Regions from separate parts of the Homo sapiens genome. Here region 2 is reported to be linked to region 1. Evidence: microRNA targets listed by miRTarBase, many of them from high-throughput screens and not tested one by one. Region 1 holds a microRNA gene; the other region holds the end of a gene's coding sequence.
Evidence for each region. The annotated mature microRNA hsa-miR-1909-3p reads CGCAGGGGCCGGGUGCUCACCG and lies in region 1 at 2,034-2,055, shown strand. An mRNA with a match to its seed (bases 2 to 7 or 8) in the 3' UTR can be bound and repressed. Matches are read on the target gene's strand: a 7mer-m8 pairs with bases 2 to 8, a 7mer-A1 pairs with bases 2 to 7 and ends in A, and an 8mer does both.

Region 1 (5,174 bases):
TGCCTTCCTGTGCCCTTGGTCCATGGAAATGTGGAGGTTGCTGGCCCCAGGAGCGGAGGGGCTTGTCCCACCCTTGGCCTGGTGGTTCTATTCAATCCCCCAGGCAACCACGCAGCCACGCTCAGGGCACATGGCCAGCCTTGCACAGCCCTGTGGCGGCCCCTAAAGCCATCGCCTCAGGGATACCTGGAGGGTGCTGCCCGGGGCAGCGCTGCCAAGAGGCCTCTGCAGAGGGCACTGGTCTCCCTGGATCCAGGCCTGGGCGTCCTGGCTGCCACACGACTGCCGGGGCCTGGTCTGCTTCCAGCTCCACCAAGAGGCTGAGGCCTCCTGTCCTCAGTCCTCACTCCCTAGTAGGGCTCGGTAGATGCAGGTGGTCAGTGCCCCGGGGGCTGTGGAGTGGGCCTGGCCGGGCCCTGACTGTGTGTCTGTGTCCCCTGCAGTGGCCGGAGGCTGGGAGACCCAGTACATGTGCTGCTCGGCTGCCGCCGGCTCTGTCGGCTGCCAAGTCGCAAAGGTGAGCCCTGGCGTCCCAGTCCCCTCTGCCTGTTCTCAACAGACTTCTGCCTCCCCATCGTTGGTGTGGGGTCTCGGGACACAGCACAGTCCTGGGCTCAGGGTCTGGGCCCCCGGGCAGCCTTTCTTGTGTTACCCAGAGAACGTAGCACCCGTAGGCCCCAGGCCCTGTCCCTGGCCACTTCCCATCCTGGGAAGCCGTCCTCCCTGTGTCTTCTTGGCAAGCCCCCTTCCCCACCTGCTCACCAGGGTCCCAACCAGTGAATGGGCGTGATGGATGGATAGGATGGTCCCGAAGGGCTCAGAGATGTGCTGCTGCTGCCACCCCCGCCCCCACTGCACCCCGAAGCTGCCCTCACCTGCCTTCTCCACCCCCAGCAACACGTGCAGGATGGCCGGAAGGAGCGCCTTGAGGGCTTCGTGAAGACCTTTGAGAAAGAGCTCTCAGGAGACACCCACCCGGGGATCTACGCCCTGGACTGCGAGATGGTGAGGCTGTTCTCTGCCCAGCGTCGGGTTCAGGATTGGGGAGGACCTGGCCTGGTGCGGCCGCCCCATCTGGCCCCATCTGGGCCTGGCTCACCGGCCAGCGCTCAGGGTTTCTCTCGCAGCACCGGTGCCTGTGGCTCCTGCCCTGGACCAACACCCCATACTTCCCAGCAGAGCCAAGCACACCGGGCACTGGGCCCCGGCTCTGCCTCTGAATGGGAGGCAGGAGGGCTTTGCGAAAGGGGGTTACTGAGGTCACACCCCACTCGGCCTCTCCTAGAAGTCCCACAGAGTCTCTGGTCACTGCCTCTGCCTGGAGGGGCTCTGGAGACTCAAAGGGGCAGGGAAGGGGAGGGAGGGAGGCCGGTGCCTGGGACACATCTGAGGTGCATCCCTTGCCCGCAGTCCTACACCACATATGGCCTGGAGCTGACGCGCGTCACGGTGGTCGACACGGACGTGCACGTGGTTTATGACACCTTCGTGAAGCCTGACAACGAGATCGTGGACTACAACACCAGGTGTGGCCAGTGCCCTCCACGAGCTGGGAGCCCTCCCAGCCGCCTCTCCCCAGGGACCCACCCTCCCCCGCCCCACCAGCCAGTGCTTCCAGGCTGAGCCCTGGTGCCCCTCCTGCCCGTTCCCCCAGGTTTTCGGGGGTGACGGAGGCTGACCTTGCCGACACAAGTGTCACGCTGCGTGACGTCCAGGCCGTTCTGCTGAGCATGTTCAGCGCTGACACCATCCTCATCGGACACAGCCTGGAGAGCGACCTCCTGGCCCTGAAGGTGCCCTGCCGGCCCGGGTCCCGCGCGGTTCTCCAGCAGGACCTGCGCAGGCCCCACGTGCGCTGATCTCTGCCGCTGCCCACAGGTCATCCACAGCACCGTGGTGGACACGTCTGTGCTCTTCCCCCACCGCCTGGGCCTCCCCTACAAGCGGTCCCTGCGGAACCTCATGGCCGACTACCTCAGACAGATCATCCAGGACAATGGTGAGTGCCGGTGCCTGCCCTGGGGCCGTCCCTGCGCAGGGGCCGGGTGCTCACCGCATCTGCCCCGCAGTGGATGGGCACAGCTCCAGCGAGGACGCCGGCGCCTGCATGCACCTGGTGATCTGGAAGGTTCGAGAAGACGCCAAGACCAAGCGATGACGCCTGCCCGCCTCCCACCCGCCTCTCCTGCCGTCCCGCTGGTCCTTAGCCCCATGCCTCTTCCAAAACAGTGCAATAAATCTCCGGTAACCCGTCCACCTGGCCGAGGCAGCCCAGAGCAGCGGGATGAGCTGGCGGCCAGAGAACGCCCAGCCCAGCCCACCCCCGCTCACGTCCTGCCGCACCCCTCCGCCGGTCCCCACCCTCTGCCCCCCAGCCCTCTGGCGTCTCTAGAAACTGCTGCTGATGGAGACCAGGACAGAGCCCGCCCCCACCCGGCCCGCAGCCCCTCCTGCCCCTCCTGCCAGGCCCTCCCTCCCGGGTGGTGGCCGGCACCTCTGCTCCTCACGTGGGTCGCGGGGCGGGCTTGTCCCAGGTTTGTTTGAGACAGTCTTTTTTTATTTTGTATTGTTATTTTTATTATTTTTAATTTAAACCTGATGACTTGCACAGCATCTTTCCCACCGGGAAGAGCGGGCCTGCTGCCTTCCCTCCTGCGGGGTGGGGGTGGGACAGACCCCAGTGGGGGCCAGGGCCACACTCAGCGCAGTGTGGGCTGGACCCGCCTCTGTGCTCCAGGGGCTGGCCGGTCTTCGGGGGCGCCGGCTTCCACCACTCGCCGCCCCACCCCTGCACTCCGTGACCTCTGAGAACCCAGCTGGCCCCTCGTTAGCCCCAGGGTCTGCCGTCTAGAGGGAGCCCACCGGCCTCCGGACACTGTCTTCCCGCTAGAGCCCCGTCCTCCTCTGCGGGGCTCTCCGGACCCCCTTCCCCCTCACCTCCAGGCAGGGACAGAATAAATGTTTGTATGGATTTTAGATTTTGTGGTGGTCTTGGTCTTGGTGCCTGGTGAGGCCTCTGCATGTGCCCCGGGGAGGCCACTGTCCCTGCAGCCGGGACTGATTCTCTTCCCATCAACGCAGAGAAAACAGAGCAGTGAAACTTTCCCTCACAAAAGCTGGCCCAGGGCTGGCTCCCCCAGGGCTGGGCCACACCTGCTGTGGGGTCCCAGTTCCAGCCCCAGATCATGGGCCACCATCCTGCAGCTTCTAGTGCCTCTCGGACAGTGGGTGGTGTCCCCAGCCCTGTGTGGAGCTGGGCCCTGTGCACAGAGCTGGCTTCCCTCTCTGCCCTGCCCAGAGATAGGGACTGCACACAGATGGTGAGAGGGGGTTAAAGAGACTGGGAGCTGCTGTGTGTTGCCCGTCAAAGGATGGAGTGCAGACACGGAAAGCTGCTCCGGCCCTTGCCAGGAAACGCCACACATTGTGTAGTGCACGCACGTCTCGGGCAACTGTGGTTGCATCGGGACCCCATTTGGAAATGGGAGGCCCAGGGGTGTTTAGGCCCCACTTTTTATTGACCTCAAGTAGAAAAAGTGATGAGCCTTGCGGGACAGGACCCAGCAGCTGGGGGCAGGTTGCCTGGAGTGGGTTTCCTGCCACCCTGGTCTTGGGCTTCTGCTGAAGGGCAAGGCCAAGGGCACAGGTCCCGGGATGAGGACGTGGGGGCCCTCCCCAGAGGACTCCATCCCAAGGCTCCCTTCCCGGTTCTGGGCTCTGCATCTCTCCAGGGCCCTCCTGGGGGACCGTGGTTAGGCCAGGCCCTTCCACCCTCGAGGGCTGTTCTTGTGACTAGTGACTCTCCCACCTCTTCTGTAAAGGAGTTGTTTTCTTTTTCTTCTTTATTTTTGAGACACAGTCTCGCTTTGTCACCCAGTCTCAGCTGGCTGCAACCTCTGTCTGCCGAGTAGCTGGGATTATGGCTGTGCCATCACACCTGGCTAATTTCGTATTTTTAGTAGAGATGGGGTTTCACCACGTTGGCCAAGCTGGTCTCGAACTCCTGACCTCAAGTGATCCACCTGCCTCGGCCTCCCAAAGCGTTGGGATTACAGGCATGAGCCACTGTGCCCGGCTCTGTGTTCTAAATAAATGGCGCAGGCGTGTATGCGCTCTGTTTCTGTGCATTCCCATGTGATGTCTGCCTCCCCCTTCCCAGAACGCACCTGGTGCCTCAGGACATAGCCCACGGGGGGTCCCAAGGCTGGCCAGCCCTGGCTTCAGCCCCCAGGGACTCCCTTCAGCTTGTGAAGCCACCTGTTGCCACTGGAGGCTTCAGGGCCTTTGCACAAGTGCCCTGGGCAAGCTCCTGCCCCCAGATAGTGCCCCCTGCGAAGGCTGGGGTGGGGGAATCTGGTCCTCACAGCTGCACCCAACCAGGTCTCTTCTAAAGTTTATTAGAACAGTGTGTTCAAACTCCCAGCCCCGGCTTTTTTTCGTAACCACTGAGCAAGCAAGCAAGCACAGGGGAAGTGTTGAAGGAATGAAAGGAGAGAAGTCAAACACAGTGGCCTGCCTGCCTGCTTGTGGTCCCAGCTACTCTGGAGGCTGAGGCAGGAGGATCGCTTGAGCCCAGGAGGTGGAGGCTGCAGTGAGCTCTGATCGCACCACTGCACTCCAGCCCGGGTGACACAGTGAGACTCTGTCTCCAAAAAAAGAGAGGTTCCCTGGCAGCCTCCAGGGCCAAGCAGGCTTCCAATTTGGGCTTCCAAAGAAAGAGGGTTTGTGATCACCGAGAGCCCTCAGGTGGTTGCCGCTTTGATGGGGGAGGTGGCTTCCCTATCCCCCTCCACCCATGTTTGCCTCTCCCTTTGGGCCCTCACCCCAGGTAGCCTCACTCTTGGGGGCATTTCATCTTCAGCAGCCCCTCCGCACACACTTTCTGACCCTGGCTCCAGGCCCTATCGCTGGCCTGGACCCGCCCTAGCCTCGTCGCTGAACTCACCCCTGCCACTTCTTCAGTAAGGATCCCTGAGCCCCTGCCACCTGCTGGAAAGAACCCTGCGGGCTTCCTCTTGGCCTTAGGGTGGTCTCAATGGCTATAACCGCCTCTCCCCAGCCTGGTGCTCAGCCCTGCATCTGCGCCTAGGAGGCGCTCGTTGAACGTGTATGGGATGAATGAACGAACCCAGGACACGGATCAGACATGACTTACATAACCGCCGTTACCTGTG
Region 2 (5,000 bases), not on the chromosome of region 1:
TCCTCAGGGAGGAAGGGCCTTGTGGGAGGGGGCGCCAAGTGGAACTGGAGAGCCCTGCTTCCGTTTAGAGGAGGTATTTTTCAGAGTTCCTACCCCGGCTTTCTGGAGGGCAGCCCCAGCTTCCTGCCCCTCACTTTAGCAAGGGGCCAGAAGACTGCCCAGGGCTGCCCACTCCTGTCTTGGAGAGGAGCTGACTCAGAGGACAGTCTAAGTCAGGGTGAGGATGGGAGTCCTGCTTCCTGCCAGGGGTGCCCGGCAGAGGGACAGGGGCGAGGTTCACACAGAGCAAAGTTGCCTCCACTCAACAGAAGCCACGGGATCTGGAGAACCCAGGCCCTGGAAAATGCACCTGGGCCACCATCCATCTCATTACCCTAAGAGCCTTTTGCCCCTGGGTAAAAAGTCTCCTAAATTCAGCCCTTTAGATAAATAAGAAGGACCACGCCCTATAAGAGAATGAAGAGAGGAAACCACTGAAGAGTGTGTGTGAGCTGGGAGGTGACAGCCCAAGGGAGGCTCTGATGGCCCCAAGAGAGAAGTATCAGAGGTGGCTGGAGAGGCAGCCGTGCATGCGGAGACGGAAGCGTGCTGCAGACACGGTCACCCTCACGGAAACAGCTGTGTGTAACCACCTCCATGCACGCTGCCTGTTGGGCCTGAGCCAAGCAGCAGCAGGGACAGAGAGGCAGGTGTTGCAGGGAAACCAGGCACACGATGGTGCCAGCTGGAGGCTGCCAGGGCGGCCCCACCAGGGACTGCCCCTAACTGCCTCCCTATGTCAGGTACAACCAGCAGGCTTACCCCAAAGGGCCTGATAAGGAAGGAAGAAATCAAAACCCCAGAGGAGCTCAGCACAGGTGAGACAAGACCCAGCAGGCTCCATGAAAGAAAAAGGACCCACAGGCAGCAAGAATGCAGAGGTGGAGATGACAGCAACATGGCCTCACTGTTACCAGGATGCAGCGCCTGGACAGGAGCTGGCAGGGGACTCCCAGTCATCACTGCCACCAGGGCGCAGCGCCTGATCAGGAGCTGGCAGGGGACTCCCAGTCAGGGCCCAGTGGGCAGCCGCTCCAGCTCTCTGAAGTGACTACAAAGCCAGCTGGTCTCAAAAGTGGCTGTCAGAGCAGCTAAATTCTGGGCCGTGGGGAAAGAGCAGCGGAGGGAAGGAGGAGGAAGCAAGTGGAGGTGGCTGGGGTGGGGCAGTGTCACGAGCGTATGTCTCAGGTGGTCACAGGCCCCCCCCCCTCCCCGCCCAGGTCTGAGGGGACAGTGAAGGACAGGGAGATTGGGTGCCAGGGGCCTCTTCTTTACAGTAAAGCAGTGTTTTGGAATTTGAGTGCAGAATGTAGGTTTGGGGGCTGGGTTGCATCTCGTACTCCATACTAGCTGACTCCCAAAACAGCTCACATCTGAATGTCAGGAAGAATCCACAGCCCAGCTGCAGGCGAGGTCAGAATGTACCCGACACTGCTGAGGGCGGCAGGCAAAGCCCTGGTCAATTCCTAGCCCCGTCCTCCGACCCAAGACTCCTAAGGCAGCTCCTCTCTGAGCAAAGGCCTCTAGTGATGATGGTTTCCCAACTTCTTTCAGGAAAAGGTAAGTTAGGTGTTGTGTGGCAACCCCCAGATGGGCCCAGACAAGTTGAGGGGAAGAGCTCTAGACAGGGCAGACAGCCTGCTGCTGGTCTCTGATCCTCTGCCAACGATTCCTCCAACTAGTCCAGGCATCTCCAAGGCTCCCTGACTAGACACAGCACCTTGGTTTCTGAATGAGAAAAGGGAACTCTTTCCCCCTCAGCCAATCAAGCAGCCAGGGCCTAACTCTGAGGCCTGTTCAGCCTAACTTAATTCCTTCTTCTGAGGCCCCTGGGAAGATGAAAGGCGATGGCTGATAGAGATGAGACACATTTTACTCTAAGAAGTGTCTCTTCTCTGTTGCATTTGCTTTCAGATCTGTCTTTGTCTCTCTGGGCCTAATTGGGTGGGAGAGAAGCTGATAGGATCGTTTCTACCTCTCCTAGACTCTGGCCATTCCCAGGGCCTGGAGTGGGCTTGGGGGAGATGCTCCAGCAGGGCCAGGGTACAGAGCCTCCACCGCCCTCCCATCGGCCAGGGGCACGCAAGGGGCAAAGGTCTCCAGCGAGAGCACAAATCTGACACAATTTACTTCTGACAAGGCAAGATGAGAGAATGGTCTGAGTCTTTCACAACCCTGGTTTTCTCAAGGAGAGGCCACAACCGGCCAAGCCGAGGCAAGCGCAGCAATTCTAGCCCAGGGTCACCCAGGAGGCTTGTGGGTGGGTGGAGTGGAGTAAATTTCTGGTGCCTGGAGCCAACAGGCAGAGAAAGGAGTGGGAGCTTCAGACCTCTCCCCAAAGGCAAGACAGAGCGAAGGCCACGCTGGGGCTCTGTCTCAGAGACGTACCCTCAAAACATGTCACTCCTCCTCTGTTCTAAGCACCAAGGGCTGATGCAGCCAGCCTGTACTCCCGCACCCTCCTGTCACGGCCAGGGTGCGTGCGCACCACAGAGCTCCGCTGGCCAGTTCCCTCGGAGGTGTCCCCCAGGCACTCATAATGCTGGTGGCTGAAAGACCAAAAGCAGCACCAAAGGAAGGGATCTTATTTAGGCACCAGCCTTTTGCTCTAGCAGAATCTGAGAAGACCACGGGTAGGGCCCTGATACCATCCACGCTTCCATTTGGGCTTCACAACAGGAGACAAGATCCCTGCACCAAGAAGAGAGCACGGTCTTTTCTGAGGAGAGAGAAGGGTGGGGAGCTCCGCCTCTGTCCTTCAAGGAGACTGGCCCACCAGTCTAGAGACACACACACGGCAAAATGTCATCGTGATCAGCAGGGTCTGTGCTAAAAAATTATAACTACACGGCATTTTCTCCAGTTCTGACACCTTTTTAATAGAAATCACTGTTTTTAGGAAACAAATAGCACTTTTGTAATTTTTTTTTACAATGTTTCTTACCTTGATCTTAATTTAAGTAACACTAGGAAGACCTCAATATCTTTTATTTTCCTTTTTAATTTAAAAAAAAGTTTTTTTTCCCCAGATACAAAGATTTTTGCCCTTGCATAAAAAAACAGTGCCCGAACGATGACACAAGGACTCACAAAGACTCACGGGACCTCACTGACACTATGATTCCTACTCTACCATGCAAGGTCTTGGCTACCCTTAATTGGACTGTCAGCCTGAAAAACAGCTTTTCTATTCCTTATTTTAGTTTTTGTTACCAAGAAAGTAAAATGAACAGTAAAATAAAACTTTCCTTAAAGAAAAAAAGAACAAAAACAAAAATTAAAGAAAGAGAAAAGAAACGTCTCCATTCAATTCACACACACCTGGGTCGCGTGCTGCTTCACTCAAGATCTTCTCTTCTTATAAATATAGAAAAGGGATGGAGCTTGTTTTCAAGTAAAATCACTGATCCACCTTTTTTTCCTTCCTGGACACACACATCCTTCTTCCCTGCCTTGGGCAAGGGCCAGTGGCCCGGGCTCTGCTTGTTCTTGGAGAGGAGACAGCGGGATAACCACGGAGATGCGCGACTCACCAAGCAGGGAAGGAAGGAGACTGGGCAGGCTTCAGGAGTGGTGGGGTTACCGCGCAGGGAGCAGAGTGCAGGGGAGAAGAACCTACTGGCTGTTCTTGGTGTCAGTCTCCCCTTGCACGAGGCCCCCGCCAGAGGTGATTAAATACTGCTTATTTGATACACTGTCCCACCCCCTGCTCCCTCCAGCCACTCCCCTTCCCTCTTCTGGGCACTGGGGTTGGTGAAATCTCAATTCCTTTTTTTGGTTTTATAGTAGCGAAAGTTTAGAAACAGGAAAGCCCACACACTCTTTGGACTTGTCTTCTCTACCTAAACAAACGGCTCGGCAAGTAAGGATCTGAAACCTGCTCTCCTCCCTCCGCCCGTCCCTGCTCCCCACCCAAGAAAACAGAAACAAACCCATCGTGGCTGTGGAGGCTGCTGCAGGCACACACTGGTGTATAATAGAGAGAGTAAATATATTATTTCACTTGGCATGGTGCTGGCAAAGAACCTCCAGCTGGCACTATTTCATGTAACATGGTCCAATCTTTGCATGTACACACAGAATAAGAAGGATCAATTGGCAAACTCTGGTGCCACCTGGCACAAGCATCTTCTCTCTCTCTGGAACCAAAGAACCAAAAGAATTCTGCACTTTCCAGAAATCCGGCTTTGCTTTTCTAGAGTCTTCAGTGTTCTGTTCTCCTTGCCGCCGGGATCCCGTGGCTTCTCCTAGAGGGGCTCTGTTATTTAGTCTCTTCCCCCTGGTTACAGTTCGCTGTGCAGCTCTGGGAGGAGGGGGAAGGGGCCGGCGTGGAGGTGGCGGCATTGGCAGGGGGGGTGCAGTCCGGGCCATTGGAGATGGCCCCCACAGTGGCCTCAGAGTCTACAGGTTTGGAGAGGTCGATGCCGTGGATGAGGCGAATCAGCTGTTTTACCTTCTCCAGGGAGCTGTGCATCTCCTTCTGCCGGGCCAGGATGGTGTTCTTCATTTCCATGCATTTCTGCAGCAAATGACAAGGGCAGTGGCACTGAGCCGCCTGGTTTCTAACAGGCCTGGCAGCCCCTAAGAGCAGAGCGCCTTCTCTCTGCCCAGGGAGAAGAAGCTCTGCTGGCTGCTGTGCAGCCCCTGGGCCTTGCTGTGTTCCTCAGTGGAGTGGGCGGCTACCACCTAAGGAACAGGGCGGGTGGAGTGGGTAGGCTGGGGGGTCCCAGGTCCCAGAGGCAACAGAGGGAGAAAGAGCATGCGGGCACCAACACACAGGAGTACTAACGCTTAAAAACAAACCGGCAGAGCCGCCATCAGACTTCCAAACAAAGGTTGTTTAAAAAAAAAAAAAAAGTTCCCACAGCTGTCCTGCAGCCTGTTTAGGCAGGTTTTGATATGCTTCTGTCATGCTAACTGGGGAGCCTTCAGGACTGGACTGAGCTCTCCAGGGTGGAAAA

Region 2: the mRNA of PHF21A is a reported target of hsa-miR-1909-3p. Seed matches in the 3' UTR shown: 8mer at 3,639-3,646, 7mer-m8 at 1,036-1,042, 7mer-m8 at 981-987 and 7mer-A1 at 694-700.

What each region holds. Positions count from the first base shown.
Region 1 is chr19:1,813,050-1,818,223 of GRCh38, reverse strand. MIR1909 (microRNA 1909) reads left to right here and starts at 1,986; the gene lies at 1,986-2,065. It overlaps REXO1 (RNA exonuclease 1 homolog), which reads left to right. Exons shown (of 16, transcript NM_020695.4): 11 at 444-517; 12 at 895-1,005; 13 at 1,411-1,526; 14 at 1,655-1,793; 15 at 1,879-1,999; 16 at 2,070-2,976. The coding sequence ends at 2,158. RefSeq lists an enhancer at 5,155-5,174.
Region 2 is chr11:45,929,668-45,934,667 of GRCh38, forward strand. PHF21A (PHD finger protein 21A) reads right to left here. Exons shown (of 19, transcript NM_001352027.3): 19 at 1-4,558. The coding sequence ends at 4,301. Among named protein-coding and RNA genes, the nearest start is that of LARGE2, 9.5 kb to the left of the region's middle. RefSeq lists enhancers at 291-480, 831-920.